Linked DNA regions of Homo sapiens: region 1 is linked to region 2. The links come from fine-mapping of genetic effects on gene expression. A gene starts in region 2. The other region holds a variant in brackets. All regions are shown on one strand. Distances are from middle to middle. Region 1 overlaps SHANK2 (SH3 and multiple ankyrin repeat domains 2). Region 2 holds the start of CTTN (cortactin).

The links. PIP is the estimated chance that this variant, and not a neighbour inherited with it, causes the effect.
Region 1: its variant is fine-mapped to the expression of CTTN in whole blood (TOPMed, PIP 0.99).

Annotation. Positions count from the first base shown.
Region 1 is chr11:70,461,491-70,477,833 of GRCh38, forward strand. It overlaps SHANK2 (SH3 and multiple ankyrin repeat domains 2), which reads right to left. Exons shown (of 26, transcript NM_012309.5): 26 at 6,364-11,949. The coding sequence ends at 11,379. Among named protein-coding and RNA genes, the nearest start is that of CTTN, 71 kb to the left of the region's middle. RefSeq lists an enhancer at 8,750-8,959. The variant A/G (reference allele first, on the strand shown) is at 8,796.
Region 2 is chr11:70,390,356-70,406,698 of GRCh38, forward strand. It overlaps CTTN (cortactin), which reads left to right and starts at 8,174. Exons shown (of 18, transcript NM_005231.4): 1 at 8,174-8,259; 2 at 14,910-15,006. It overlaps CTTN-DT (CTTN divergent transcript), which reads right to left and starts at 8,107. Exons shown (of 3, transcript NR_186321.1): 1 at 7,743-8,107. RefSeq lists enhancers at 1-147, 919-1,688, 7,470-7,539, 10,388-10,682 and silencers at 6,504-6,692, 7,790-7,839, 7,940-8,449, 9,031-9,100, 13,824-14,003.

The sequences.
Region 1 (16,343 bases), 71 kb after region 2:
TAGCCAAAAGGTGGAAAAAACCCAAATATTCATCAACTGACAAGAGAATAAACAAAATATGATCTACTCATTCAGTGAAATAATATTCAGCCATAATAAAGAGCAAAGTTCTGATACCTGCCACAACTTGGATGAATCTTGAAATACTGCAGTAAGTAAATAAGCCAGTTACACAAGGACAAATATTTCCTGATTCCGTTTATAAGAAATGCTCAGAATAGGCAAATCCATAGTGATGTTAAGTAGATTTGTGGTTGCCTGCAGCTGGGGATGGGGTGGTGGCAGGAACAAGGAGGGCCTGCTCACTGAGTACGGGATTTCTGTTTAGGGTGATGGAACTAGGTAGTGGTGATGGCTGTACAACATTGAATTTATCTAATGCCAATGAACCATACACTTACACATGCTCAGTGAGGACACTCCACCTGAACACACTCTTGCTAGCATCTGCCACGTGCCCACCCATTGTCCATTCCCCTTCTGCCTTGCTAACATTTTGTCCTCCATCCCACCCACCCCATTTTGTTCCTGGCAGCACAGTGCCAAGCTAACCACTCACTCTGCCAGTCTGCCTTGCTTCTAATTTGCTGCAGACACCATTGTGGCTGATGTGTTGGTAGACATTTCTGGGAAAGCATTGACTTTTCTGTTAAAAGAGAGAGACTTGGCTGTCATAGTCTTGTCCCTTCTTCCTACCTTGGAAGAGAATGTCGTGTGTGGAGTGGCAGCAGCCTTTGGGTGCTGTGAGGTGGTAAGTTTGAGGGAATCTGAGACTTGACACTGTTGAGCTGTCAGACCAAAGCCGGGAACCACCCACCTCTTCTCCAGCACATACTAAGAACATCCTATTCTAGGTGCTGGGGCAGTGAACAAGACCGACAAATCCAGGCCCTTCTGGAGCTTACATTTTTGTGTGATATGAAAAGAATAAACCATTATTTGTTTAAATTGCTTTTAATTGGAGTTTCTGTTATTTGCAGCCAAACATGATATCAACAGACACAACTGTTTACTTCCATTGTTTGATCTACGTCCAGGGGTCAGAGTGAAAATGTTCACATCTGTGTTAAGGTGCCCTGGCCACATAGCTAACAAGCTCCAGAACTTGGATGAGGACAAGAGTTCTTTGAGGCTGGAGCCCTGACTCTGTTTCAATACATGTCCTCTTTATATCTGTCCCACCGCTCTGCACAGACCCTGCCTAGGGTCTGTCTCGTGGGTTGAAGTGTATGCAGCAGCACCATAGTGATGTGAACACCACACCTTCAGAGGACTGGATGTAAGATGATACCGTAATAGCGAAAAGTGGTCGTTATCCCGAATGCCAACTAAAAGGACATTGTCAAGGACATCACACCATACCACTCAATGGGATCTCACACCACCATTTCCATGAAGGGCTGGGGACTGACGGCCATGCAAGCAAGGTTTGGGGGCTAAACGGAAGCCAAGGAAGCAGGAGTGGAGGTGTAGGTGCGTCATGATTCAATGCAGGGAGAAGGTGGGTGTTAGGACTGGAGGTGAACTCAGCTTGGTGGCAGGGCTGTGGCAATTCTCCATTTTCCAGGGTGTGCCTAATGTGGTTACATAGCTTTGAAATTCAAAGCCATAACTCTTAAACAAACCTCAAACATGTGCACCCCCACACTGAAGGAGGGACTTCTCACTGCTCCCTTAGGAGGATACAGGCACCTAAGGGGACATCAATATCCCAGCTCCCTCCCAGGGCACCTGCCTCGTCTGTGGACCCGCCTCCTGGTCCCAGGGATTGGCTGATAGCTGCCCTGCCTACTCTAGCTCAGCCAATCGTGGATCCCCATTCTTTGCCAGTGATTGGTCAATGTGAGGCATGTGACCAGTGGGCCCAGAGTCCTCTGCCCGCCTTGTTCAAAGGCGGGAGTAGAGTGCAGGCCAGGCTCAGAAGGTGGGATGGCGGCCGTGGGTGGCTGCATCCTGCTTGGGACCTGGGTGAGGTGGCGCGGGGGTTGTTGGGGGGAAAGGTGGGCCTGGCTTTGGCCCCTTCCAGAGTGGGGGCCCCCAGTGACCAATCTCCTCCCCGTTCTGTGGCCCTCGCCCTCACCCAGATCCCTGGCCTGGGAGCCGGGGGCTGCGGGCCACGAGGAGGGCGAAGGCCCCGCCGCTGCGGCGTGAGGACGGCTTCGCACGCGGGAGCAGGCCCGGCGCCACCTGAGCTCGGCTGCCTGCGCGGAGGCGCCCTTCGCCTACTGAGAGGAGAATGAGGGTGAGTAGGGGCGCAAGTGGAGCGTGCCTCGGGGCTGTGGGTGTGGATGCGCTGGCAGGTGTGGCGGTTTGGGTTCTGCAAACCCTCCCTACGGCGGCTCTCGGGTCCTGGAGCGAGACGCCGGGTGCACGACGCCAGAATCACTGAGGTGCCGGCTCCCCGCGGTGAAGGCTCCAAGGAACGCGCCTGGGCCCGGCCGGCGCGGCTGGAGCAGCAGTTCTCCGGCAGCCCTGCCCTTCCTCGAGTTGGGCCTTTGAGGGGCCTTGGGGCCTCCCGGGGCGGCGGCCTTGAGCCATTAGTGTTGGCTGAAGTCTTAATGACAGGCGAGAGGTGGGCGGAGACATGGGGTTTGAGAGGCTGTCGTTTCCATAGGCCGAGGTTAAGCCTAGGCCAGGTGAGGTCTCCGAGGCGCCCGGCTAGAGTCGGGCCAAGGCTGGAATCTTTGTCCTCATTCAGGGACGCCTTTGCGGTCTTTGAAGCTACGCTCAGGTGAGCCGAGGGCAGACACTGTGTCTCCTTCCGGAAGCTGGGGGTTGCGATACGCGACCCCAAACACCTGATTTTGGGAGAATGGCTGCACTCCCAGCCCCTCCACTGTGGGCCTCGGTGCACGAGTCGCGCACCCTCCCAGCATCCCCTTAGTACCCCAAGGAGCTGTGGGACTTTCCACTCACTGAAACGGGGCCAGTCTATACAGGCGTCTTTCCCTTGTGGAGCCCAGCTCCGTGTGCCAGAAACAGACTCGTGGGGTTTGGGGGTTTCAGCCCAAGCATCCGCCCAGAACACAGTCTGCTTCTGCTGCGGCCGCTGAGAGGACTAGGGAAGTGTTCCTTTCCACACCCTGGGACAGGACGGGCGAAGTCCGTGGGTCTGGTGGCCTCGGGGAGCAGGGCAGGTGGAAGACTCCCAGGCACTTTCCAGGCAGGGGACTAGGAGGGCCCGTGGAGGGGCAGGCAGTGCTCCGAGCCTTTGGGGAATCCCCTCTTCCTTACCAGGTGTCTGAGGACCAGATGGAAGCTGCAGGAGTGGGAGTGGCCACAGCATGGGCACAGCTGCAGTGGGCTGAGGCTGTGAGGGGGCCTCTAGGAGGGGCTGTCCCTGCAGACATTGCCTGGGCCAGGGTTACAGCAGTGCATGAAACAGGCCGTGCCTCCCCCACGGGGATTGTCTTCCAGAGGCATGTGTGGGCGGGGTGGGGCGGTGGGCACTAATCAGTGAGCAAGTAAGTAAAGCAATAAGCCAGTGAAGGTGGCAGTAAGTGCCCTGGGGATGTGGGAGGGGGTGATGGCAGTAAGTCCCATTCTAAATCAGGTGATCTGGGAAGCCATGTAGGTACGGGGACCCCACAGGGAGGCGGCGCTGAGGTGGCACTGTGGCTGGAGCCAGGTGAGCAGGGAGGAAGCCCGAAGAGGAGGGTGGGTGGGGCCAGATGGCTCTGGACCTGGTGGGCAGAGTGGCAGAGCTGAGGTCAGTGTGGCCGTCTCTGTGTCGCTGCTATGAATGCACAGGTGGCTTGTGTTTCCTGCTATTTCTAGACCTCTCTTTTTGTGGTCTCCTTCCTTCCCACCACACTCTCCACTTAGCCCTCCTGGGGCCTACCGGAGAAAGCTGGTCCCATGCCTATTGGCGAGGGAGGCTGGTCTTTCCCAGCAAGCATGCTGGGTGTTAAAGGTCTCAGGCTGTGTGGTTTTCCCTGGAGCCTCGATGTCTCTATCGGGCACCTTGTATAAACTCCCACTTGTGAAGATGGAGCGTTTCTTAGCTCTCCCAGGTGGCTCCAAGGCCAGGAGGGCAGCTGGCCATGCCCTTGGCGTTAAGTGGAGCTTCACAGCTGCATGGGGCTGGCAAGCCATTTCCAGGCTCACTCGGGAGCCATGAGACCCCCATCTCATTCTTCATTAGCTCCGCCTTTCTCTTCTGCCAATGGGGGTGACAGTGGAAGGAGAGGAAAGGGCTGCCCCAGTTCTGACTGGCAGAGGGAGGCCGTGGGCTGTGGGAGAAAACACATCATCATCGTGGGGGGCTAGGAGCTCTGTCATATGGTGGTTGTAAGCAACAGAAATGGGCTCTGGCTGGCTGAGGCCACAGAGGTGTGTGTTGGGAGGGCTCTGGGCAGTTCACAGCCACAAGAGGAAGGCTTCATGGAGGACCTGGGAAGGACTGGCCTCGGGCAACTCTGCCCCCATGGTGAGGGCCCACAGTCTGGGGATAACTTGTGTAGGTGCCTGGAGGCCATGGGCAATGGCAACTGGTTCTCCAAGCCTCGGTGTCCTCGTGAGAAAAGGAGATAGTCACCTCAGTGATGCTTAACCTCATAGGATTCTTGTGGGAATTAAAGCAGATCCATGTGTCACATGCCCTCTAAGCCAAGGGGACTTTACAAATGTTGGGTCCTTTCTCTGAGAAACAGGGGTTTCTAGGTCTTGGTTCTCCTGATCCCAGTGGAGTGAATTAAGGTAACCAGATTGCCACTGAATTCGGTCTTCGTTTTCCACAACCCTGAGGTGATTCAGCTGGTAGGGACTCCCCCCTTGCCCCGCCTCCTGAATTCTTAGCCCTGCACATATGACGTCAGATGGGGCAGGGAGAGGAAGCACCCTGTGGGTGGAGCAGATTCGGAGCCAGCGATGGTTCCCAAGGCCCCGGGCTGGGTTCTGTCACCTGTAGATAGACTTGGGAAGCTGCACAGCAACCTCTGCTTCTCCACTTGCTGTGGACCTTGGCAAGACTTAGTTTCCTCATCTGGGAAATAGGGCTTTAGTTGTTACCTCACAGGGCTTTTAGCCACGTGGTGGGTGCAGTGATCTGAACGGTGCCCGTCCCAGATAGCACTAGGTAGACTGAGTGCTGTTTCCAACCTGTACCGCCTCTTGGGTATACACACAGAATGCTTGTGCTTGTGGCCACCTCTGCAGGGCTGCAGGGGCTATGTGTTTTTCCCACTCCCCGGGTTCTGGGGTTTGGAGAACACGCTTAATTCTGTTTTTGCAGTCATCTTGGGCAGAGATGACTACAGTTGGGCAATGGCAGGATGGCTTGCCTTCCAGGAGCACCGCGTCAGAGGGGCCGGCCCCCAGATGCAGGTGGCTGGTGAGGGGTCTCCACACTCTGTCCTGTGAACTGGGCCATTTCCGTGGTCCCTACCTCATGGGGGCCTAGGGCCTGGCTGCCAGGTCTTACCCAGTGGCTGTGAGCAGTGCCAGGGCCCCTCCTCTGGCTCTCAGACACATGCTTCATACTTGGAGCGGAGGTAGCAGCACATGTGGAGCAGGGTGACCAAGAAGCTTTGGCCACATCTCCCTGAGCACCCTGCAGGTTCTTGGATTATTGGCTGCATTGTTGCCTGAAACTACACAGTCTGAATTCCAGTGGACTCTTCTGGCTGGTAAATAGCCACACCGATAATAGTCTGTGAGCTGAGCAGGCACAGTGGGGAGTTCTGGATCTGAGTAGCTCCTCACTCCCTGGAGAGATGTGTGTGGCAGGACAGCCTGTGGCAGTGCTCTGCCTCCAGAACTTCTGCGGCCTGTTTGCGGGGGGGCCCCCGAGAAGATGGGGCTGCTGCCGCTCCCATCTGTCCGGAATCCCACAAACGCTCACTATTGCTGTGGCTATTCTGGTCCCACAGGCAGATGGCAGCCCTAATATGCTCACTACACCGCAGGCTCATCCTCTAGAAAGGCAGAGGCTGCTCAGGGAAGCTTCGCACTTAAAGCAAATGGAGCATGACAGCATTGAGACAAGAATTACACTGATGTACTTCTCACATCGTTTTTTTGTCGAAAGAAAAACACACATGTTGCCACTTTCACTTGTGAAAAATGGAAACAGTTTTCCTGCAATGAGTGGCCTCAATCACTAAAAATGAATTTGTGTATATTTATAACAAAACGTCGAAATGATTGATATTGATGGCTTCGTTAAGCATTACCAATGAGTACCACCGGGGGGCGGCACAGCACAAGGGGAGTAGGTCAGAGAGCCCAGGGCTCCTGTGGTTAAACTTTTCTCCTTTCCATGAAAATCCTCAAACACATTTTGTATTTTAATTAAATGAAAATACTGAAAATGATACAGTAGAGAGCACTTTTAATGGAAAATTAATTGATAACACAATCTTATTTCAATTTACTTTTTATTTTTAACTTAAACGACTGTGTATTTTCCACAGTCTTATGATGAGAAAGGCTCCAGAATCACGTGTAGGTGTCCTCAACATTTCATAGCTCGAACCGTCCTTTCTTTACGTTGTGCATTGATATGGGCTTCTCAGTTCAGAAAACAAGGCACTATAACTATTTTATCAGCTACATTAATACATTGAAGATATATTTATCCTTTCATGAAAGATACAGCATTTGAATACAATATGGTTTTATGCAGATCAGGTTCAAAACACCCAAGGCACACACTTTATTTTTTTTCCTTTTTTTTTTTCTTTTCTGTGTTTATTTGAAGGCTCGTATTAAAATTTCAAAATTGGCATGAACAAAGAGTTCCAGAGTGGAATCAATGGACAGGGATTGTTGTAATTTTGAACATAAAACGGTAAAGACTGTGGAATGTAGAACAAGTTACAGGAACGATAAACAAAATCACCAATACAGCATGGATTAGAAATCAAAGTGATGAGATCTGCGGAAGTCTGAGAAACAAGTTTGGAAATTCTCTGATTCCCCACAAAGCACGGGCAGTCCTGTCTGCATGCAGCTGCTGTGGTCACCCAGCCACTGTGGAATGTTCACCTACTTGCATGGGTTCATGGTTGTCTACAAATACAGAAACACATTCCAGTTCGCCAGTTATTAAAATGCCTCCAATTTCAAGTAAAAGAAAAAATCTTCCAATAATTTTCCTAGTAAGGTAAACGAATATATTCATCTAGGAAAAGTGGTCTGGAAGAAACCATTGGAAGCAAAGTCTAGGGGGGTGCCAAGGTTTGGGAGAAACTATTGGATGGTGAAGCGGGAGAGCTTGAGGGTGAACTACAAAAGATATGAGGACTGGAATTTTTCCTGAACGTGGAAGCATAGAGGCTGCTGCTCAACTGGGGAATGTGCCAAAGTAGAAGAAACTTTAGGAACTAAAGACAACAAGTTTTCACTGGTGAGGCCAAAGAAGAAGTTCAACGTTTAGGTTTAAAATATGCTTCCCTAAAGCGGAGGGATGGCCCATGTCTTCCTGGCTTAGTTCTTTGCCAATAGACACAAATTCTCTCTTGCTCCAAGCCTTAGCATGTGGTTTGCTTGTCAACCAGAGAGGCGGCCCAGTTCTGCCACTCCCTTGGCCTTATGGCTAGAAGACACCCTGCTGGGGTGTGGGGAGACTGGACCCTAAGGGAAGGGTCCGGATCTGGCTGGCCCTCCGCGGCACCGCTGCTTCCACCCAGAACAAAAGGAAAAGCCGAGCCTCAGCTCCACGCCTATAGCAGCGGTCACAGAAGCAGATTTTGACGTTTTGCATAATTCTGAAATAACATGCACGTATCCATTGATAAATTGAGAATAAGGAAATGGAACCAAGGCAGATTAGCTCAGTGACAGGAGCCTGTTTACTCGATGAGAGAGATTTTTCTGGTCAGTTTTAGAGAGGCAGAGCTGGCCACAATGCCTGAGATAATCTACATTAGATTGCAAGTCGGGCAGCTTTTTGTTTAATTCAGACAGTGTTCACTGTTTGTTTGCAATCAGAACCACAACCTTAGTGCAATAGTATATTTATTTTTTTACAGTAATTTTGGTTGCCATACAAGAGATTTAAGGATTGGGAGAAAGTGCAAATTACAGGAGCTTTTTTTTTTTTTTATAAAGTCTAAAAAGAATAAAAGCACAAAAGTAACAGCAACATAGATAATGCGAACACGTGTTGTTACACAAACTATAGTGTGAAACATATTAGTATTTAAAAAACAAAAAAAAATTGTTAATGGGAAAATCAATATTGTGGCCCACACACAAAAAGTCATTGCCAGATCAACTGGATAATGCTTGCTTGTTCAATAACTGAGAAAAAAATTTACCATTTTATTAACTAAAGTATCACAAATAATTCACTTTGTGATATGTAAAGTTCAGCAAATCAACAGTCACATTGAGTAATTTTTATATTATGTGAATTAACTTAAAATGTGCGCAGACACCCTGGAAAAGGTATCTTGGCAGGTATACATAATTTACATTTTGAGAGATTTGGGTTTTGTATACACAATATTACAGAAACTAGGCATGTAAATGCAGTTTATTTAAATTACAGTATGTAACAAAAGTTGATCTTAAAACCTGGAATAATATCAACATGATCTTTAGATGAGCAGTTTAACATTTGTTCCACCATTAAAGAGGGGCATGGAATAGGGCCTCGTCCTAACATGTCCCAAAGGGGGAGAACAGTGGGTGGTGATTTGAATGAGGAACTATTGCTTTCAGTACCAAAATAAGCAGATAGAGATAGAGACCGATTCATCTTGGCAACATGTGTTTATTTGTTGGTCAGTGCAGGTTCTGATAGGTCTATTACTTCTCTATAATAAGACAGTGTAAAAATAAACTATGTT[A/G]TCAGCTCTTTAGTCTTGCAGCCAGCTTGCTTGTGGTTAGTGGCATGTGGCTTGGAGTATCTTTAAGAAAGGGAATAACATCTGGCCCTCACCAACTGGCTGCCAAAGTTCAACAAACCGAAGTCACGAGTTTCGACTGGTTATCGTCTGCCAGCGGTTTCCTTGACTCTCCTTTGAGCTAGTGTTTTGCCTGGCACTGAGCACAGAGGTAATACCAACTGTAGGCCCAGGGAAAGTGCCATGCCAAAGGAATGGACTCACGGAATTTTGCGGTATCATCAAATGGAAGACAAATTAATGGCCAAACCACCATTTTTACATTTTCTAAAATATGGGGCAGCCTCAGCAGGCCACCTGTAGTATCCTGTCTTGAAATTTATCTAGAGTAATGCTCATTCATCTCATGATGGAAAAACTGAAAGCACACGGAAGTAAAGCGCCTTAATATTCAATTGACTTCAAGTTGGATTGGATCATTTCAAATACAAAGATTGACCTGCAAAAGGTTTTGGAACAGAAGGTCCAAAAACTTGGTTCCAACATCAGGGGTGTGTGACTGGAAAAGCGCGTGTGTGTGGTGTGTGTTTTGTTTTTGTTTTTGGAGAAACTGCTGCATTATGAATTGTAACCACTTTGAAGAAATTGTCCTTCAATGACGAAGTTCTAGCAAAGATAGAAAATATAACACAGCTCTGCTGGTTCAGATGCATCCAAATAAGGTTGATTTAAAAAGGTCATACTTTTATAATTATTCCACAGAAATAGTATTATTAAATCACAAAAGTTTTTTTTTCTTTAACTTTCTAGCACTGAAGTGGCACAAAGGCTGCCTAGTAGACCAGCCACTTTTTTTTCTTAAAATATTGTGCTTATAAACTATCTGTACAACTATTTAAACTTGCAGTAAAGAAAGATTTTAAATTGCTAAATTTTATGTGTTCATTCTAGAGCTGTTCCAGACCTAATCAAGAAAAAAAGGAAAAAAAAAAAACAAAACCATGTTTTATAATTAGAGATGGGCTGAGCTAGTTCTGAAATAATAATAAAACCAAAAACCTGACATTCGAGTATCCTCCAAATGGGGGAGAATGTGCTGGAAGCCTGACTGTGTGTTTTGCGGCCCATGTGCATCTGGTGACCTCTTTTGGAAATTCGAGGTATTGTTATGGGGTGGAGGGACTCCGGGGAAAGAAAGGGGCGGGGCTCAAGAAAGCCTTGCCAGAGAGGCTGACCTGGCAGCCCAGGAGACCTCCCTGCTTTCCTCTCCTCACGCCTCTGCTTTCACTCTGATCCTGCCGCCCACCTTCTGTTCTCAACCCTGGGTTCTGTCTATACTCCATACCCACTGGGTCCTCAAAGAAGCTGTTGTACTGTTAAGACAAGCTGGTGGGATTCCTAGACACCCAGAGCGATAGGGGAAAAGCCTCTAAGTACCATCTTCCCTGGCCTCCGAGAGCAAAAGGACTGTCTCAGCAGAGATGCTCACCCTTGGCTGGGCACAGAACTGAGGATGCTGTGCCCGCCCAGCTCCCAGAGGAGACGCTGTCTCACTGGCAGCCGCATGTGCCCGCCATGAGCCATGCGTCTTCTTGTCCTTCATGTCAAAGTGGATGCTCACCTGCTCTGATCTTTGCAGAGCTCAAGACATCTTCAATTAAAAAGAATTCTGAGAGGCAGAGAAGCCCTTATTCTCCATCCTGGATGGGTGCTCATGGCAGACAACTGCTCTTGTCCTGGAGACCTGGAGCTTGGGCAGTTGCACGCTGGCTGGCTCCCTTGGCCAGGTCTCCCCTCCATTGTGGAATCGTGACTTTGTGCTTTGACTAACTCCATGTGACATCTGCTTGGCCACCTTGGAATTATGCTAACAGATTTGCAGAAATAAAGAAAGCTAAGCAAAGCTGGGCACGATCCCATCCAAACTCCCAGCACTGCCAGGAACCTCATGGCCAAAGAGCCATGGATGCAAACCACAGGAGGAGATGGGGAAAAGAATCTGTGTAGGAAAAAGTTTCTCTGCCTTTCAGGCCCATGATGGGGCACTGGACAAATGCATCTGGGAGCATCTCACTGCAAGCCAAGTGCAGGAGAAAGAGGGGCAGGTGAGCATCAGGTGTCCTCTGAGAGGCCACAGGACTGAGGAAAGGCCTCATGCCGGGGCCTGGGGTGGTGAGAGCTGCCCGGAAAGCAGAGGACGGAGGTCTCAGGAGGTATCTAGAGTGCACTGGTGTCTGCCTACAAGAGCTAGGATCCCGTGCAAAATTGACGGGGAGCCTCTCGGACCCGGCAAAGCGAGGCCACCTGCATGCTGGGCGGCAGGCTGAGAATCTTTTTCCATGTTAGAAAAACTCCCTCCCCTTGTCCCATGTGTGATAGAAACTGCCCAAGACACCCACATGGTGAGCCAGGGGTCTGAAGACCCAGCCATGTTGTGGACACAACTCAGTATTTCTTTGGGTACCAGGAGACAAACCCATGGAGTGGGGTTGATGCTCACAGACTTCGCTTGGCATTCAGATGTTTCAGCACGAGCCCATCTCTACTTATAACAAGAGCAGTCTGCGAGGTGGAGAGCAGCCGTCCTTATCTGTCCAGCAGCTGTTTCAAAGCCCTTTCTATGTTCATTCTGTGCCCGACTCGAGTTACCCCAAGATCGATGAGGTCCTCCTTCTGCAGGTTTGGTAAGTGACTGCCATCGATCTCATTGTCCATGAAGGCCTCTTTATGTTCACCCAAGTTTAGACTTTCCAGCCAATCGGCCACATCTGGTTTAGTCCACAGGTGGACAGGTTTAGTTGTAAAAGGCTTATTTGAGATTGGCTGTTGCAGTATCGAGGGGGATGGCGACCTACTGCGTCCCGCTGGGTTCAAGCCAAATAGATCCCCAGAAGGGGGCTGGCTTGGAAGGCTAAAGACATCTGAGAGAGCGGGAGAAGGAGAGGCGGTGGCAGCAGACAGGGGGGCGGGCAGGGTCTCTTTGTTCATCTCTGTTGGCGAGACCACAGGGCTTGGGGCACGTCTTGTTCCTGAGGTCCTGCTTTCATAGTCGGGGGGCCGGCTCTGCAGGGTGATGGGCTGGGAGGTGCCGGGGCGAACAGTGAAGGTGACCGTCGTGCTCCGTGTACCTGAGATGGTGCTCATGATCTCCGGGCTTCTGAAACAGCAACACAGAGAAAACCATCACAAGGCAGGTCACCGAGTCAGGGCAGCTGGCTGCAGATCACCCAGGAAGGCGAGGGAGACGCCCAAACCATGCCAGAGTGTCTAGTGGCAGATCCACTGGCAGTGAACGAATGATTTGCCATGCCAGGGTGGGGGAGGGGGAGAAAGGGGCCAGAGCAAAGTTGGAGACACCAGAGCACACCACGTCAGCCCACTCACCTGAACTGGGACAGAGGGGCTGGGGGACCTGCCTGTGCTGGGGGGAGCACACCACGTCAGCCCACTCACCTGAACTGGGACAGAGGGGCTGGGGGACCTGCCTGTGCTGGGGGGCAGGGCCGGGGGACCCTCGGGAGGGTGGCCACTGAGGCATTTGGAAGGGGTCCCTTGAAGAGGGCACGGAGACAGGGACAGAGTGGGGTCCTGTCACCTGGGTAGAACGTGCCAGGCAACATCTCCAGCGCCTCAGCTTCAGCAGGTGGGAAGGAGCACACCTGGAGGACAGGCCCCTCAGCCGCCTGGCAGCCTTAGGCTTTTTGGGTAAATGGACAAGAGCAGGGCAGGATCCTTCCCAGGTGGCCCCTTTCAGTAACTGGAACCCCTGTAGCTACGCAGGGCACTCAGGGGTTGAGATCACCCGGAAACCCAGACAGCAGGGCGTGGCTTGTGTGGCCAGTGTGGGCTGCGCTCACCTTCCTGAGGCAGCACTGTCCAGCGCCCACCCAGTGGACAGTTTTGTTGCAGAAGGAGCTGGGGTACCCTGTGTTATTTTTAGCCCCTTTCATGTGAGAGGCTCACTGGTAGGACACACGGGCCTTACTGAAAAGCAGAACGCGTGAGGAGCCCTGTCTTCCCCAGGGTGGCCATGGGCGTCCCCGAGGGTCCCCTGTGCCTTGCCGCTCTGGCTGGGCAGGCAAAGCCCTCAGAGCTCAAGTCAGGGAGGACGACCCTTCTAGCTCCAACCTTTACTGGCCCCAGGGTGGTGGCCAGATGACTCCCACAGGCAGGAGGTCCCATCTCAGTGCCAGAGAAGTCCAAGTCCTCACGCTTACCCACGTGGAGGTGGCCTTTCACACACCACTCCCTCACGGGCTCTGGCCAAGGCCTGTGGCAGGCACTCTCCACACCAAGAGAACTGCCACTCTGGGCCCTAGTGCATGTTTTGCTGTCCCCACACTGAAAGCCCATTCATCCTATTGTCCCTAGGAAAGCCACAGCCACTGGGGAGGGGAGGAGAGGTGTGGGTCTCTTGCCTTTTGGGCCCATTCACGTGGATATGAACGGCCCACCCACCGCTTCTGAAAAGATCCATCCTACCACGGCTCTCTCTTCAAGACCTGGACTTGAGAGATGTCTGCTGGAGCCCTGGCTCTGTCAGATGCCAGCTTGGGTGCACTTTTCTCCTGTCTCCACATCTTCCCACATGAAGTGGGCTCCTCTCCCTCCTATGTGGTGGGTTACCCTGGGTGGAGGGGCTCTGGAGAGCATGAGGAGTGCACTGGTGTGACATCGTGACCGTGAATGGTGGTGGGCTGCAGTGTCTCAGTGAAAGGGTCATGGGCAAGAGGGGGAGAGCTGCAAACAGTAGAGATGCTGCCGTGTGGGGAGACTCCCTGGAGGGCAAGACTGAAGCCCCTGCCCGTCTGCTGGGGGCCAGTTCATCGACTTGCACTGGGGCTGTCTTTGGAGCTCAATGGCTGACCAGTTAGAGCAGCACTTCCCAAAGAGGAGCCCACAGACCCTTCATAGAAACCACCTGGGACACTGGTGGGCCGTGAGGACTCCTGAGCTCGTCTCAAACCTGTGGAAGCAGGAGTGCTGTGCATGGGGACCAGGTGTCTGCAATTAACAAACTCCCCAGACACTGAGAGACCCTGAACCTTAGAGGCCATTTGGTTGGGCCTTGGTTTTCATTCCAGGGTATGCACAAAGCTAATGGCCCAGAACCCTCCAGGAGCTAAAAGCAAAGGGAGTGACCTGGAGACGGGCCCCGCTGCTGGTCTAGTCTGTCTCTCTCCGTTTTTTTCTTTTCTCTTTCTTTACCATGGATGTATATTTGGGTGAAACCACCCATCAGTTACCTAGGTTCCCCTAAGCTGTGGGTCAGTTTCCTACTTGATGTTAGTCACTGTTGCTTAAAGTGTGGACTAGTCCATAGTGAGAAAGGAGGGGCAAATCTGAAAGGGGCCTGTGCTGTGGACTGAGGCTTCAATCCTACTGTGAGAAGTGTTTGCAGGGGCTGGTGGGTGCACTGCTGGGCCAGGGACCCCATCCACCCATAGGGTGTTCACGTGCTATTTTCCAGAGGGCTGGGTGCCCCTGAGTGGGAGATGTTACAAACCAGGCATCCCCATCTAGAACCTGCCCCCACCCTCAATGGTGGCTTGCTGGTCATTGGTTATACTGCTCACACCAACAGGCACAAGGCAGGTGAGACTCTGAGGATTCCTCCACTGTTTCTGGGCCCAGTTACTCACAATCAAGAAATCAGAGGCTGCACACGGTGGCTCACGCCTGTAATCCCAGCACTTTGGGAGGCCTAGGTGGGTGAATCATTTGAGGTCAGGGGTTCGAGACCAGCCTGGTCAATATGGTGAAACCCCATCTCTACTAAAAATTAAAAAAAAAAAAATTAGCTGAGTGTGGTGGTGGGCGCCTGTAATCCCAGCTACTGGGAGGCTGAGGCAGGAGAATTGCTTGAACCCAGGAGGCGGAGGTTGCAGTGAGCTGAGATCGTGCCACTGCACTCCAGCCTGGGCGACTGAGCTAGACTTCTTCTCAAAAACAACAACAACAACAATAAAAAAACCCCCAAAAAACCCGAAATCAAATCAGAGCCCAGTGGGGCTTCACAGCAGGGGAGAGGGGCCAGCACCCTCTAGTATCTCAGTTTATACTCTCAAGAGAGAGGTGGCCTATGGACATAGGATACACGAAAAAACCTGCAACCCCCCCTTCTCTGGTACTCAAAGAAGGTCGAAAGACCAGCTCCAGTTCCAACTTAAAACTGGGGGTGCTGTGGCCTGTTCTTCTGTGTTTATTCCAGAGTCACAAGAGCACAGTTTTGGGGAAGGCTTATTTGTCCACGTTGATAAAACAATTAAGCCAAGATGATTGAAATCAAATAATGGGTAAGTTGAAAGCCACTGCATTCAGAGGTGATTTGGGGTGTTAATTAGGGCCAAGGACCTTGGGGCACAGGGAATGTTTCCTATAAAATGGGAAAACATCTTACAAGAAGACATATGCCCACAGAGGACTAGAGGAGGAGGGGTAGCTGGGGTAAAGTTCTGGTCTCCATGTGCTTTTGCTAAAGCTGACTACATGGTGACTGTGCCTGCAGCCCTGACTCTGGGCAGCTCCACCGTGGCAGCATGACTGGTGCCTGGCCTTGGTGCTCACCAGGCCTGTGAAGCAGAGGCAAGTAAAGCCCCAGAGTGAGAGCACCTACCTCACGCCTGGGCAGTATTCACCACGGGTATCTCTGGCCCAGAGGGTTGCCCCAGTGCTGCCCTCACTGGGAAAATACCCAGCTGTTCCCAGGTAGTTGGGATTGATTTTGGTTTTTGTAAGGAAAGGCTCTGCAGGCAGCTGTGTGTGTGGTTAGGAAGCGAAGAGGAGGCTCTGCAAACACCTCGGTGGGCAGCGGGAGCGCGAGAGTGGCACACACGGGGTCACGCAGCAGCACAGCAGGTGGCACTTACTTCTGTTCAGCACGACCCTCTTCTGTTAACACCGGTCATGGGAGCAAATGAAAATGACAAATGGAATGACTTGAGACAACACTGCAAAAATTAATGAACAAGAAAGGAAGAAACAGAAAAAAGCTGCTTTTCGACAGATGAAATGAAGGCAGTGGGGCAGACCCTGGCTGAAAGCCCATCCGTGGTGGTCCCTTCGGCCTGCCACAGCCTGCCCAGAGCTGAAACATCAATATGGCATCACTTTCATAGGGAGCGTGGGAAACTCACAAGCTTGTCTTCTCCTTCTTTGGCTTGGGATAATGTAACCACTTGTAAAGAAGAAAAATAACCAGGAAAAAAGAAAGAAAATAGTAGCATTGGAGTGAAGTTCGCCTCTGCCTGAAGCCCACTGAGAAGCAGCTTATTGCCAATTTCCTACCTCAGGTGCCTGAACTGTCTTTCCTGTGGCTTAGGGAGGATAAACGAACATTCCTGGTGGGGGAGGGCACCCCAACAGGACAAGTGCTTTGCTTCAAGTCTACATCATGAGATGACAGCCCAGCCGTTAATCACATGGGCGTCAAGTGCTTGGGGCCTGCCAGTGTCCTGCCCCACATTGCTATAGAAAGTAACCGCCTGTGAGTGTGAGACGCAGGGTGAAGGCCACCCTGGGCTGCCCGCCCTGCCCTCCTCAGCAGCTTGA
Region 2 (16,343 bases):
AGGAGAATGGCATGAACCTGGGAGGCGGAGGTCGCAGTGGGCCAAGATCGCGCCACTGCACTCGAGTCTGGGTGACTAGCAAGTAATAAGTCCTATTACTCCAAGACCACCCCACTGTAAGGAGGCCCAAGCTAGCCACATGAAAAGACTGGAGAGAGCTGTCTAGTGTCTGTCCCCAGCTGCTCCCGCCATCCTATTCGAAGTGCCAGCCATACACGTGATGAAGCCAACTTGGACATGCCAGTTCTCACAGCCGTGCTGGAGGAGAAGCCATTCTGACGTACCCAACATTCAGAAGCGAGGCCCAGACATAGAACCCCGGTCTTCATCGCAGCCATGGCTGACCAGATGAGCCACTCCAGTGGAGACCATTGAAATGAAGGTAAGCCGCTCCCACATCCCCCATCTGACTCACAAAATTATGAGCATGATGAAAGGTTTCACCAGTAAACACCACCACCTTTTATGGTTTATTATGTTTGGGGTGGTTTATTATGTTACAGGAAAGAGGTCCAGATCCAGGCCCCAAGAGGGGGTTCTTGGATCTTGCACAAGAAAGAATTCAGGACAAGTCCACAGAGTAAGGTGAAAGCAAGTTTATTAGGGGAGCAAAGGAACAAAAGAATAGAGCAAACCTTTAGAATAGAGCAGCCCCAAGGGCTGCTAGTTGCCCATTTTTATGGTTATTTCTTGATGACATGCTAAACAAGGGGTGGCCGATTATTCATGCCTCCCCTTTCTAGACCACATAGAGTAACTTCCTGACGTTGCCATGGCATTTGTAAACTGTCATGGCGTTGATGGGAGTGTAGCAGTGAGGACGACCAGAGGTCACTCTCGCCGCCATCTTGGTTTTGGTGGGTTTTGGCCGCCTGCTGCTGCTTTTTTTTTTTTTTTTTTTTTTTTTTTTTGAGATGGAGTTTCACTCTGTCACCCAGGCAGGAGTGCAGTGGTGCGATCTCGGCTCACTGCAACCTCCGCCTGCCGGGTTCAAGCAATTCTCTGACTCAGCCTCCTGAGTAGCTGGGTTTACAGGTGCCCGCCACCACGCCCAGCTAATTTTTTTGTATTTTTAGTAGAGACGGGGTTTCACCATGTTGGCCAGGCTGGTCTTGAACTCCTGACCTCATGATCCACCCACCTCCCAAAGTGCTGGGATTACAGGCATGAGCCACCACGCCTGGCTATGGCCGGCTTCTTTACCGCAAGCTGTTTTATCAGCAAGGTGTTTATGACCTGTATTTTGTGCTGACCGCCTACATCATCCTGTGACTTAGAATGCCTCAGTCATCTGGGAATGCATCCCAGTAGGTTTCAGCCTCATTTTACCCAGCTCCTATTCAAGATGGAGTTGCTCTGGTTCACACGCCCCTGACAATTACACAGCCATTGATACGGTATGTAAACCAAAAGTGACTCTTAAGCACCCCCAACCAACTGAATAGACCCTTCCCCCTTGGCCAAGAGGATGCCAAAGAAACCTGAAAAACTGGCCAGGCACAGTGGCTCACACCTGTAATCCCAGCACTTTGGGAGGCTGAGGCAGGTGGATCACGAGGTCAGGAGTTTGAGACCAACCTGACCAACAGGGTGAAACCCCGTCTCTACTAAAAATACAAAACTTATCCGGGCATGGTGGCACAGGCCTGTAATCCCATCTGCTCAGGAGGCTGAGGCAGAGAATTGCTTGAACCTGGGAGGTGGAGGTTGCAGTGAGTCGAGATCATGCCACTGCACTCCAGCGTGGGCAACAGAGTGAGATTCTGTCTCAAAAAAAAAAAAAAAAGAAAAGAAAATCTGAGTCCACCTATGCCCTGTAAGCCCCCGCTTTGAGTTGTCGCGCCTTTCCAGATGGAACCAATGTATACCTCACATGCACTGATTGATGTCTTATGTCTCCTTAAAATATATAAACCAAAGCTGTAACCCAACCACCTTGGGCCCATGTTCTCAGGACCTCCTGAGGCTGCCTCATGGGTCATGGCCCTTGCATTTAGCTCAGAATAAATCTCTTTTAATACTTTCCAGAGTTTGGCATTTTTTTGTCAATATGTATATGAAATATACCCTTAGGTTTTCTGTCTAATATGTTCTATGCTGTCCCCTGCTCCCACCCCACGATCATCTGCTATATTTTCTTATCCGTTGCTGTTTAAAGACCCACCCCAAAATGTAACAGTAAAAAACAACCAAGATTTATTGCTTCTTTTGATTCAGTGGGTTGGCAATCTCGGTGACTTTTTTCCTTTTTTTTTTTGTAGATGGAGTTTCACTATTGTCACCCAGGCTGGAGTGCAATGGTGATCTCGGCTCACTGCAACCTCCACCTCCCGGGTTCAAGTAATTCTCCTGCCTCAGCCTCCCAAGTAGCTGGGATTACAGGTGCCCGCCACCACACCCAGCTAATTTTTGTATTTTTAGTAGATACGGGGTTTCACCATGTTGCCCAGGCTGGTCTTGAACTCCTAACCTCAGGTTATCCTCCCACCTCGTCCTCCCAAAGTGCTGGGATTACAGGCGTGAGCCACAGCGCCCAGTCCCATTCCCATTTTTTTTAAATCAGAGTCACTCTGTCACCCAAGCTGGAGTGCACTGGCATGATTATAGCTCACTGTACCCGTGAACTCCTAACACCTGGGCCTAAGGGATCCTCCCACCTCAGCCTTCTGAGTAGCAGGGACTACAGGCATGAGCCACATGGCCTGGTTCTAAACATAATTTTAAAATCATACTCATGTTCTACAATATAAAATTCAACTTTAATAATTCATGTTCCCATTGTTCACAGTATTGGCTTTCTTATTTATTTTATATTTTGAGACAGGGTCTCCCTCTATCATTCATGCTGGAGTGCAGTGGCGAAATCATGGTTCATTGGCAGCCTTGACCTCCTGGGCTCAGCTGATCCTCTTGCCTCAGTCTTCCAAGTAGCTGGGACTGTAGGCACAGGCCACCACACCCAGCTAATTTTTTTAAAGTTTTGTAGACACAGGGTCTTCACTATGTTGCCCAGGCTGGTCTTGAACTCCTGAGCTCAAGCAATCCACCTGCCTCGGCCTCCCAAGGTGCTGGATTATAGGCATGAGTCACTGTGCCTGGCCTTTGGCTTTCTTATTTAGTATTCATTTTTACAATCCCTTTGGAACTTACATTCTAGGTTCATTTTAATTAGGAAATGTTTCATTTTCTCTCTTCCTCACTGTGTGTGACGCTGTCTGTCTCCCTGTTCTGCAGTTGCCTCAACCTCTCTGTATTAGGGTGGGCTAAACATCTGGAACAAATGGACTCCAAACGCAATATCTTAAACACAACAGGATTTTCTTTTGCTTTCACGTAACAGGGCAGGGTGTATGTCCAGGTCAGGCAGAGGAGGAGAAAGGGATAGTAAGGAAGATCTGTTCCACGCAGTCTTGGAGGGATGCAGGCTGGTGGGCTCTGCCATCCTCAAAACAGGGCTTCCAAGGTTGTACCTGTCACCTGTAGTAGGCTGAATAATGGCCTCCAAATATGTCTGCATCCTAATAGTCAGAACATGTGATGTTGCTTTACATGGCAAAAAGGAGTTAGCAGATGTCATGACATTAAGGATCTTGAGATGGGAGGATATTCTGGGTGGGTCTGAAATGGGATCCCAAATGTTCTTGTAATAGGGAGGCAAAGAGACATATCCGTACAGAGAGAAAACAGGTGTGAAGATGAATGCATGGGTCTGAGGGATGCAAGAAGCTAGAAAGGCCACAGATGGTTCCTCCCCTAGAGTCTCCAAAAGGAACAAGCCCCACTGACACCTTGACTTTAGCCCATGAAACTGATTTCAGACTCTGGCTTCCAGAGCTGAAGAGCATATATTTGCATTGTTTTGAGGCACTGAGTCTGTCATAATGTGTTGCAGCAGCCTAGGAAGCTGGTCCACGGTAGGAGGCAGCCCCGGGGAGGAATGATGGTCCAGGCTCAGAAGCCATGCATGTCACCTCCCCTCATGTTCCATGGGCGAGAACCTGGCCACATGGCAGCTCCCAACTCCAAGGGAAGCTGGGAAATGTAGTAGAGCTGGACACCCACATGTCCACTTAGTACCGAGGAGGGTGGGGGCGCTGGGTGGACAGCTACATCTCCGTCACACGTGTTGTATTGAGTCCTACAGCCCTGCGTGGTGGTGCAAATGCCCCAGGTCCCATCTGCACTCTAAGTCAGGGACTGGTTTGCTCAGGTCCTGGACATAAGGCTGTCTGGACATCCCTCTTTGGCTGCATGGGTTTTTAAAATTTTTCTTTATTTTTATTTTTTTGAGACAGGTTCACACCATGTTGCTCCAGCTGGTCTTGCACTCCTGGGCTCAAGTGATTCCTCCCACCTCGGCCTCCCCAAGTAGCTGGGACCACTGGTGCGCCCCTGGCTGCGTGCTTCTTTTACAAGCGTGGGTGACCCAGGCCCAGCAGCTTTGCAGTTGCAGGCCCACTCAGCACTTTGCATTTCTCTTCATTTCTGGCTCACAGAGATATCACTTTTGTTTTGTTTTGTTTTGTTTTTTTGATAGAGTCCCGCTGTGTCTCCCAGGCTGGAGTGCAATGGCGCGATCTCAGCTCACTGCAACCTTCACCTCCCGGGTTTGAGCGATTATCCTGCCTCAGCCTCCCAAGTAGCTGGGATTACAGGCGCCTGCCACCATGCCTGGCTTATTTTTGTATTTTTATTAGAGACGGGGTTTCACCAGGTTGGTCAGGATAGTCTCGGACTCCTGACCTCAAGTGATCCACCTGCATCGGCCTCCCAAAGTGCTGGGATTACAGGCGTGAGCAACCACGCCCAGCCACCAGTTTTGTTTTTGTTTTTGTTTTTATTTTTTGAATTTTAGTAGAGATGGGGCTTCACCATGCTGGCCAGGCTGGTCTCAAATTCCTAACCTCAAGAAATCCGTCTGCCTTGGCCTCCCAAAGTGCCGGGATTATAGGCATGAGCCACGGCGCCCGGCTTCGACCTATTTTTGAGCACAGCTATACTTCTTGCTTTGCAAATTTTACACTGTATGTGTAATTCCTGTGGCCAGCCTCAGTCTCTGCCACACATTCTCCTGGGGAGCACAATGGGCATGTGGAAGAGTGTGCTGCCCCTTTCTCTCTGGGAGCCACTCTGAAGCACCCTGCTCTTCACCGGCAGCAGACTGGTCTTTCTAAGCCACGAACGCTGCCCTCCTGCTGAAAAGTCTGCAGTGAGCTTTGTCTTTCCTTCTCTGTAAAATTAGCCCAGCTAATTTTTGTACTTTAATTTTAGAGACGGGGTTTCACCATGTTGGCCAGGCTGGTCTTGAACTCCTGACCTCAGGTGATCCACCTGCCTTGGCCTCCCAAAGTGCTGGGATTACAGGCATGAGCCACCGCGCCTGGCTGCTATATTTTCTTTACATGTTTTCTTGAATAAAATACATTTTCTTCAACCTAAAAGTTCATTTTTCCAATTTTAATAGAAATAAGAACATTTCCGTGGGCGCCCAAAGATATGTCCACAGCCTAATCCTCAGCACCTATGACTATGACCTCTTATGGCAAAAGGTGTGACACAGTGAGGGACTTGAGAGGAGGGGTTTGTGCTGGATCAATACAGTCACAGGGCTCCCTCTGAGATGGACACCACCGGCTATGCCTGCTTTTTTGACTAGATGATTTCATACCTCTGTAGAGGCAGAAATTAACCTTTAAAAAACAGGCAGCAATGTGGCCTGGCAATGTGGTGGCTCACACATGTAATCCCAGTGCAGGAGGGTCACTTGAGCACAGGAGTTCGAGACCAGCATTAGCAACACAGCAGGACCCAGTATCTACAAAAATATTAAAAAATTAGAGGCCGGGCATGGTGGCTCACGCCTGTAATCCCAGCACTTTGGGAGGCCGAGGCGGGAGGATCACCTGAGGTCGGGAGTTCGAGACCAGCCTGACCAACATGGAGAAACCCTGTCTCTACTGAAAATACAAAATTAGCCAGGCAAAGTGACGCACGCCTGTAATCCCAGCTACTCGGGAGGCTGAGGCAGGAGAATTGCTTGAACCCGAGAGGCAGAGGTTGCAGTGAGCTGAGATGGCGCCATTGCACTCCAGCCTGGGCAACAAGAGGGGAACTCCATCTCAAAAAAAAAAAAATTAGCTGAGTGTGGTGGCACGTGCCTGTAGTTCCAGCTACAGCTACTTGGGAGGCTGAGGTGGGAGGATCACTTGAGCCCAGGAGATCGAGGCTGCAGTGAGCCTTGATTGCACCACTGCACTCCAGCCCCTGTCTCTAAAGATTAAACAAACAAACAAAAAAAAACAGTCAGCAATGTAAAAAAAAAAATTTTTTTTTTCAGAGATGGGGTCTATATTGCCCAGGCTGGTCTTGAACTCCTGGGCTCAAGCAATCCTCTGGCCTTGCCGCTCAAAGTGCTGGTATTACAAGCCTGGCCAACAATCCTTGTGCACAGAAAATGCAAATTAGCTGTGTCCAGTTAAATGCAATTGACCTTTGCACTAGAGATAGAGCAGTTTTTGCAAATTCATTTCAGCATTCGTCTTCCGTTTTTTTTTTTTTTGACACAGGGTTTCTGTTGCCCGTGCCGGAGCGGTCCTTTTGCCTCAGCCTCCAGAATAGCTGGGACCACAGGTAAACGTCACCATGCCTGGCTAATTTTTTTCTTAAAAAAAATTTTTTTTTTTTGGTAGAGACAGGGTCTTGCCATGCTGCCCAGGCTGGTCTCAAATTCCTGACCTCCAGCAATCCTCCTGCCTTGGCCTCCCAAAGTGTTGGGATTACAGGCGCGAGGCACTGCATCTGGCCAAATTCTTTAAACAATTTGTAACAACTTATGATGTATTCATTATCGAGTTAAATAAAATATTTGACGTGTTCATTTTATATGTGTATGAAGGTCATGATTTTACCTTTAAAAAAATGGTCAACACCTGACATTTCCTTCCGCCACCCGCACTTCCAATTCATCCTCACATCTGACAGTTTAGCTTTCTAAATGCCTCTTGCATCTATCCACTTCTCCCCATCTTACCTGCCACCAGCGGTCTGCCCGAATTGGCTACATTAGGCTCTACCTGGCCCTTCTCCCATCCATCTTCCACACAGCAGCCAGAGTGATCTCATTACAATTCAAACTTCATTATGTCTTATTTATTTATTTAGCGATGGCGGGCGGGGGCGAGGGTCTCACTATGCTGACCAGGCTGGTCTCGAACTCCTGGCCTTAGGCGATCCTCCCATGTCAGCCTCCCAAAGTGTTATGATTACAGGCGTGGGCCACTGCGCCTGGCCCAAACTTCATGATGTCTCTTATCAGCTTAACTTCCTCCGAGGACTTCCCGTGTCTCCCAGAATAAAGACCGAGGTCTTCGCTGTGCTCTATCGGCCTCTGCATGACCTGGCCCCTCTCACACCACAGCTCCGCTGCACCACTAGCCCTCTACCATGCTGAGCTGAGCCTCCTCCAGTTCCCCTGCTGCAAGACCGTTCCTGCCTTGGGACCTCTGTTGGCCCTGCTGTTGGAACCTGCTGTTGGCCTGCCTGGAAAATTCTTCCCTCCTTACCTTGTTTACTCTTATAGGGCCTTCACATCTTGGCTAACATGTGAATCGCCCAAAGAAACCTCTGGTCTCCCAGGGGTTCAGGTCCTACCGTCTCCCCAATACGATGTTATGAAACTCTCACTTCTTGGCATTTATCTCATTTCCCAGGTGAGTACCCATGTGGTTTAACGCTTGACTCACCTTCTAGGCTGCTATGTCCCTGTGGCCGGGGCTCGCGTCCCTGGCACGCATGTGGCCCTTTCTTGGAGGGGAGGTGCATGGTGAGCGGACGAGGACGGCTGAGGGCGCGCGCGGAGGGAGGATGGAGAGATGAAGAGGCTCCCCGCTCCCGGACTCAGGGCACGTGCGTCTCCTCGGCTGGCTTCCTTCCCCCGGCCCCGGGCAGCGCCGCGGATCCTGAGACCCCGCCGCGGGCTGTGTGCTGCTCAGCGCCCATCCTCTGCGCGCGCAACGCTACTTCCGGGCGAGCTCTGCAGACTCGCCACAGGCCGGGCTAGCGCTTAGCCAGCTGCGGGCGGACCCCCGGGACTCTTGCGGGCCAAGACGCGGGAGGAGGCGGGGCAGGGGGCGGGGTCGCGCGGGGACCCGGATGCGGCCCCGCCCCCGCCCTCGGAACCGGAAGTAGAGCCTGGTGCCTGGGAGCGGCTGGCGCGGCGGAATCCAGGGCCGACCCGGGCCGGACCGACCCCAGGCGGCGGTGAGCGAGCGCGGCGTCCGCCCGGGGTGCAGGCCGGGCTCTGCTTCTTCCCTCCTGTGGCGTCGCCTGGCCGCGAAAGGGGAAGGAAGCGGCGGCCGCAGCGGTCTCACCGCTCTTCCGCTTGCGGTTTCGGGGGCCGGGGCAGAGTGGCGAGGCTTTCCCGGCCTGGGGCGGGGCAGGGCGAGGGCCGGGGGTCCGCGAGGGCCACGAGGACGGGTCTGGGCCCAAGGAGGCCGGGCAGGGGGCAAGGGGGCACGGAGGGCTTGGGGCTGGGGTCCGCGGAGGAAGGTTAGAAAGGGGCCAAATTGGGGTATCAGCTCTGAGGGGAGGGTCCCTGGGCGCCGGGGGGCTCCAGGGCAGGAGAGGGGCCAGGCTGGGAGGGGTCTTGGGTCCGAGGGAATAGGAGAGGGGGATGGGCTCCGAGGGGGAGGGTATTAGGGCCCGAGGGAGAGGGGCTGGGCCTGTGGGGTTCGGGGGTCTGAGCGGAGGGGGCCGGGGTTCGAGGGGCCAAGGAAGGTGGGTGTGGGGGGTCTCAAGGAAAGGGCGAGGGGTCTGAGAGGGAGGTGTCTGGGTGCAGAGGGAAAGGGATGAGGTCCGAGGGGAGGAGATTGGGGTCTGACGGGAAGGGGTCCAGGCGCAGAGCTACTGGGATGGGGTCCGAGGGAAGGGAATTGGGGTTCGAGGGGAAGGGGTCGGGGCTCGGAGGAAAGGTATAGGGTCCGAGGGGAGGGGATTGGGGCTCCAGGGGAAGGGATCCAGGCGCAGGGAAAAGGGATGGGGTCCGCGGGGTCAAGGCGGTTGGGGTGCGCGACTTTGAGGGGCTCGCTGTGGGACGTGGCGGAGCAGCTGGGGATCCGCCCGGCCTGCACCTGAGCGGAGGTTTTGCAATCAGGTCAGTGGAGGCAGCGAGGCGCGGCTGCAGCTAGTCGTGAGGCTCTAAATTTGGAACCGTCCCTCCTTCGGGGTGTGTTTAAAATCACCAGAACGGTGCTTTGGGGCTTTCTGTTACGTTTCCATCACCTGGATAGTCTAAGGGATGCCTGATCCCTGAAGCTGGAAGGCCTTGGGTGAGAAGGGACAGGGCTTCCTCCCGCTGGAATCTGTGGACGTTTGGGGCCCCTTGGGGAGGAATTCATTTTCTGCTGAAGGAAGCTCCGGAGGCATCCGGTGAGCGCTCCCTGGAATCCCATGCGCTCCCTTTGGGCTCAGTGTTGACTTGGCTGCGCAGGCTCTGTCGGGGGGACTTCACCCACTAGGTCCTTCAGGCATGATCCAGCCCTCAAGCCCGGCCGGGCCCAAGGCCGTGGCGCAGGAGGGGCTGGCCGCCTGCCCCTGTCTCCATTCACGTGTTTGACCGTGTGGGTGAGTCACTGGCTCCAGAGCACTGAGTCAGTCCTGTTTCTCCTCTGGTTAGAGAAGTATTCGCCAGATACTCAAGGAACAAGGAAGAGTCTTTTAAGTGGGACTCAATAAAAAGTTGGGGAGGCAGGGTTGTTTTGATATTAGGTCCCCTAGAACTAGAAGCTAACCTTCTGCTATATCTTACTGAAAAGAAATTTCTTTTGACCTGGGGCAGGGGTGCGGTGGCTCACACCTGTAATCCCTGCACTTTGGGAGGTCAAGGTGAGAGGATCGTTTGAGGCCAGGAGTTCCAGACTAGCCTGGGCAACACAGGGAGACCTTGTGTCTACAAAAAAAGAAATTCGCTGGGCATGTTGGCTTGCACCTGTTGTCCTAGCTACTTGGGGCGCTGAGGCAGAGGATCTCAAGCCCAGGAGTTGGAGGCTGCATTGAGCTCGATCGCACCACTGTACTCCAGCCTGGGTGACAGAGCGAGACCCTGTCACCCAGGCTGGAGTGCAGAGGCTCTTCACAGGTGCCATCTAGCACACTGCAACCTTGAACTGCTGGCCTTAAGCGATCCTCCCACCTCAGCCTCCCAAGTAGCTGGGACTGCAGGCCCAGCTAAAGCTGACTTTTAATTGTAGCATTTTGATGGACTTGTTTTTAAAACACTTTTAAAATGACAGCACACATAATCGGCAATTCAGATCTTCAGTCTGTGCCACGCAGTAGGTGCTCAGAAAAGGTGTCCTGAGAGTGTGAATTGCTGTGAGCGCTGGTTGCTGCCTTGTGTTGCAGTATTCCCATGGCCTGGGCCAGCCAAGAGCAGGGGACTGTGCTCCAGGAGCAGGCTTGGCTTTCACTGTGGCCCAGGCCCACCCCATCTGCTCACGCACTGCTTTGAGTAAACGGAGTAAATGTTGGGGGCGGGGTTTCCCTTGAGTAAGTGTGGTGTAGGGAGTGTGCCTGTGATGGTGATTTTGGCTACGCAAGTGTCTGTTTCCTTTCTCCTCCTGCTCTGCCATAGATGCTGAGGCTAATGGAAAGCTGATGGTGGACGGATGGTTCTGTCCTGTCATTTAAAACATTCTTCTGCCAGGCTCGGTGGCTCACACCTGTAATCTCAGCACTTTGGGAGGCTAAGGGCAGGTGGATTGCTTGAGCCCAGGAGTTTCGAGATCAGCCTAGGCAACATGGGGAAACCCCATCTCTGTTAAAAATAGAAAAATTGGCCGGGTATGGTGGCTCACACCTGTAATCCCAGCACTTTGGGAGGCTGAGGTGGGCAGATCACGAGGTCAGGAGATTGACACCATCCTGGCTAACACAGTGAAACACCGTCTCTACTAAAAAAAAAAATACAAAAAATTAGCCGGGCGTGGTGGTATATGCCTGTAGTCCCAGCCACTCAGGAGGCTGAGGCACCAGAATCGCTTGAACCTGCGAAGTGGAGGTTGCAGTGAGCCGAGATCACACTATTGCACTCCAGCCTGGGCAAAAGACTGAGACTCCATCTCAAAAGAAAAAAGAAAAAGAAAAATTAGCTGGGTGTAGTGACAGGTGCCTGTAGTCCCAGCTACTCAGGAGGGTGAGGCAGGAGAATCGCTTGAACCCAGGAGGCAGAGGTTGCGGTGAGCTGAGATCACACCATTGCACTCCAGCCTGGGCAACAGAGTGAGACTTCGTCTCAAACAAAAAAAAACAAAAAAAAAAAGAGAGAGAAAAATCAGCTTGGTGTGGTGGTGCATTCCTGTAGTCCTAGCTACTCGGGAGGCTGAGGTGGGAGGATCACCTGAACCTGGGACACAGAGGTTGCAGTGAGCTGAGATTGTGCCTCTGCACTCTAGCCTGGGCCACAGTGCAAGACCCTGTCTCAGAAAAAAAAAAGAAAAAAAAGGCTGGTGGGGGGCTTTTAGGCGCGGTGGTTCGTGCCTGTAATCCCAGCACTTTGAGAGGCTGAGGCTGGCAAATCACTTGAGGCCAGGAGTTGGAGATCAGCCTGGACCAACATAATGAAACCCCATCTCTACTAAAAATACAAAAAATTAGCTGGGTGTGATGGCGCATGCCTGTAATCCCAGCTACTCGGGAAGCTGAGGCAGGAAAATCACTTGAACCTGGGAGACAGAGGTTGCAGTGAGCCGAGATCGCGCTGTTGCACTCCAACCTAGGCAACAGAGCAAGACTGTCTGAAAAAGAAAAAAAAAGTTATTGTGTAGAGGAATTTTTCACTCTGTCTAGACAGCAAGATTACTTCACGTTTGTGCAATCTTGATTTGTACACTGACGTTTGCAAGGAAGGTTTAATGTTGAGGATGGACAGAGTCATTATCTTCTTTTGAACCGTATTGTAACAGCTTTATCGAGATATAATTCACATACCATACAATACGCCTGTGTAGTGTGTACTCTCCACTGGTTTTTAGTATCTTCATGCAGTTGTACAACTGTCACCACAGTCAATTTCAGAATAATTTTATCACCTCAAAAAGAAGCCCTTGTACCTTTTAGCCATGACCTCCCTATCCTCACCACCACCATCCGCCCAGCCCTGGGCAACCAGCAATGTATCTTTTGTCTCTGTAGATTTGTGAACTCCAGACATTTCCTAGAAATTGAATCGTATAATATGTGGTCTTTTGTGCGTGGTTTTCCTTTGCGCAATGGATTTGAGGTCCCTCCACGCTGTAGCAGGTGTCACTGCTGGATCCTCTTTGTGGCAGAATAAAATGCCTTTGTGTTAGGTAGACCACATGTTATGTATCTATCAGTTGATGGACATTTGGAGTGTTTCTGTTTTTTGGCTGCTATGAATAGTGCTGTTCTGAACACTCACGCACAAGTTTTTGTGTGCTTATACTTTATTTCTCTTGGGCATAGACCTAGGAGTGGAGTTGCTGAGTCATACAGTACCTGAGTTTAACCTTCTGAGGAACTGCCAGACCTTTTCCATTTAACATCCCTGTCAGCAGTCTATGAGGCTTCCAGTTTTTCAACACTGTTGCTGAGATTTGTCATTGGCTGTTTTATTTTAGTCATCCTAGTGGGTATGAGGTGGGTTCTCATTGCAGTTTTGATTTGCATTTCCTTGGTGGTTAATGACATTGAACAAACTTTTCCTGAGCTTGTTGGCCATTTGTATATCTCCTCTGAAGAAATGTCTCTTCAGATCCTTCAATCATTTTTAAATGGGGTTATTCGTCCTTTTTATTGAATTATAAGAGTTCCTTTTTTTTTTTTTTTTTTTTTGAGATGGAGTCTCACTCTGTCGCCAGGCTGCAGTATAGTGGCGCAATCTCGGCTCACTACAGCCTCTGTCTCCCGGGTTCAAGCAGTTCTCCTGCTTCAGCCTCCCAAGTAGCTGGGACTACAGGCATGCGTCACCACGCCCTGTTAATTTTTGTATTTTTCGTAGAGACGGGGTTTCACCATGTTGGCCAGGATGGTCTCGATCTCTTGACCTAGTAATCCGCCCGCCTCGGCCTCCGAAAGTGCTGGGATTACAGGCGTGAGCCACCTCACCTGGCCAAGAGTTCTTTATATATTCTGGATCTACAGTTCAAAATACTTTTCTCTCAGGATCGTCTTGTCACCTTCTTGATGAAGCACAAAATTTTTAATTTTGTACAATTTATTTTTTTCCTCTAGTGTTTTGGTGTCATATCTAAGAAACTATTGCCAAATTCAAAGTCACAAAAATTTACACCCTTTTAGGATTTTAGTTCATTTTTGAGTTAATTTTTCTGTATGGTTTTGAGGTAGGGCTCTAGAGGCTTTTTATCTTTGGATCCACAAAACAATCAAACTTATTTCCTATTGGTTATTTTTGTGATTGTTTTTTAAATTTCCAATATTGAGAGTATAAAATTGTGGATCTGAGCCTATCCTTAGCTGCTCATGAGTAGATTTTTATTATTTACTTTATGATTGATTTATGTATGAGACAGGGTCTCTCTCTGTCTCCCAGGCTGGGGTGCAGTGGTGTGATCATGGCTCACTGCAACCTTGAGCTCCTGGGCTCAAGCAGTTCCCCCACCTCAGCCTCCTGAGTAGCTGGGACTACAGGTATACACGACCATGCCTGGCTAAATTTTTAGGCAGAGTTGTATAGATGCTTGCCGATTACACTAATAACTGCAGTAACCAGAATGTAGCAAGCAATCTGTAGAAGTTAGGATTGCCGAAGGGAACTGGGGAGAGAGATGGAGCAAACAGTTGGGTCAGAAACCAGATAGGAAATTAATTAATTACCAGGAGGGCCAGCCAGGCACCATCCCCTAGTTCCTAATGCGTGAGAAACCACTCTGCCTGTGACCGGCTTGTTCCTAGGGACAAGGGGATTTCATTCGTCCATGTGTGTTGTCTAGCAGTATGGTGTCCAGTTGAGGCTGATGTGTGGTCCTAGGGAAGGGGTCGTGTGCTTGGCCACCCTCTGGGGAGCTGGAGTCTTGCTCCCTGCGCGGTAACCGTGTACGTTCATTAGGAATGCAGCCCGCCTCCTCCTCGGCTCTCCAGCTGCCAGTCTCATGTCTTGATAGACAGTCACCATACTGGTTTTTCCTCCCGGCCATATCATGATCCTCTCAAGGAGTGTTTTTCTTATATTATTGTTTTAAAAAGCTCACAGTAACAATTTTATTTTATAATGTCATTAATTAGAATGAATAAAAAGTGAAAATCTCTAAGAATTATGGCAAACAGTAAATGCATACTAGCAATTAAGGCAATAATTTCTGTTTGCATTCATAAGAAACATCATGTAGGCCGGGCGCCATGCCTCACACCTGTAATCCCAGCACTTTGGGAGGCCAAGGCAGGCGGATCACCTGAGGTCGGGAGTTTGAGACCAGCCTGACCAACATGGAGAAAACCCGTCTGTACTAAAAATAGAAAATTAGCTGGGCGTGGTGGCGCCTGCCTGTAATCCCAGCTACTTGGGAGGCTGAGGCAGGAGAATCACTTGAACCCGGGAGGTGGAGTTTGCGGTAAGCCGCGATTGTGCCATTGCACTCCAGCCTGTGCAACAAGAGTGAAACTCCATCTCAAAAAAAACAAAACAAAAAAGACAAAAAGTCATCATGTAGTTAGAAATCTTTTAAAACTTATTTCTTTAGTTTCTCTCTGTTGAACTTTTTTATTAGTAAAATGCAAGTCTTCCCATCCTCCTCTCAGATTTCATTACAAAACCTTGTTACGTTTGGGAAGATTTCTGAAGTTTTCTAAAAAGATCTCCACACAGAAGGGTTTGCCCAGGGAGCTGCTCAACATACATCCTTCTCAGCTTTTTACCCTTAATCTTTTTACAGACGGAATCAGTCCCCAATGCCTGGAAATTCCTCATTGGATTACTGTGTTTTAAACAGAATTTCGTGAACAGCCTTTTATCTCCAAGCGGAAAGAAAGGTACTTGTGCATTGTGAACATCCTAACATTCTTTTCCTGTGGATGGTAAGGGCAAAAATCCCTTTAACAGGAAACGGGGGAGGTTGCTGTTTCTGTGGATTTACTGGGAGAGAGATGATAATATTCTGGAAGGAAATTTCATTGTTTAAAAAATAAAGTCAGGTTTCTGTTGCATATGACTTAGAGGAGACAATTGCAGAAAACTCTGGAATTGAGGAAGAGAACCATTCCTGTCCTCCCTGAGGGGAAATCTGGCCCCTTCCCCACCCCATGAACATGGGTGGGGCCCCCAGGCACAGGATTGTGAAGCTCGCAAGTGCCCACCCCGCTCGCTGGTGAAGCTGTGTCCGGGAAGATGAGCAGAGACTGTGCTCTGCTAATCTCTCCCCGATGAGCCTGAAAAAGTACCAGGCAAAGACACCTGCCGCCTTTCTCCTTTGCCTTGGGGGTGAAGGTGGCCTCGCCAGCCCTGCAGGGACTCCCATCCTTTCTTGCAGCCACCTTCTCAGTGGTGGGAACCATGGGCAGCTGAAGTCCTGCAGGCGGGCAGCCCCCTCGCCAGGGCAGCATGGTGCCATGGGGCGGCCGGAGACCAAGCATCCCGTTTCTCTTTCCTGCAGCCGTTGCTTCATTTATAAATGGGCGCGTTGGGACAAGATGGACTGGTTGTGCCTTTCCGTTCTGAGATTCTAGTTCATCTGTTTTCTAAAATCCTGGCAAAAGCAGATCACTCTGGAAATTCTTGCCATGCTTTGGGCATTGACAGAAGGTTCCAGGGGCACTGTTAGTCCTGCTACACCCCTTGGCAGACGGTTCTTCCCCAAGAGACAAAGTCGCACCTAGAAATTTGAGAGCACGCTGCCCTGATTGGTCCCTCACTGTCACATTGGATTTGGACTTGAGACCCAGCCAGGCTGGAGGGAGAGGAGCCAGATGGGACATTCTCAAGCTGCGAAGGGGTTTTGTCCAGTCCTGATTCAGGGCGCTAGAGTCCCAACATGGCACCTGAGAAAAAGTGAATTGGGTGTCCTCAGTTCAGACCCCTGGGCACAGCTTATGGTTGTTTGATTTAAAATAATCTCTCAGTTGCTCTGTGGCCTATGTGTAATTGTATTACTATTTCTGTGGAAAAGGAATCACTTCTTTTTATACATAGTTTGAAAAAAAAAAAAAAACCTTAAAATTTTATATTTTACCACTGCAGTTACAAGAATTGTCTTGTTAGGGTTTACAGATGTGCCATTGTTCTGTATAACAGAGAAAACCTTCCAGTCTTCAAGGGCTGAGGGAGAAGGTGGCTGCCCACTTGCAGAGCTGCCTGATAGAGGAAAAGGTGG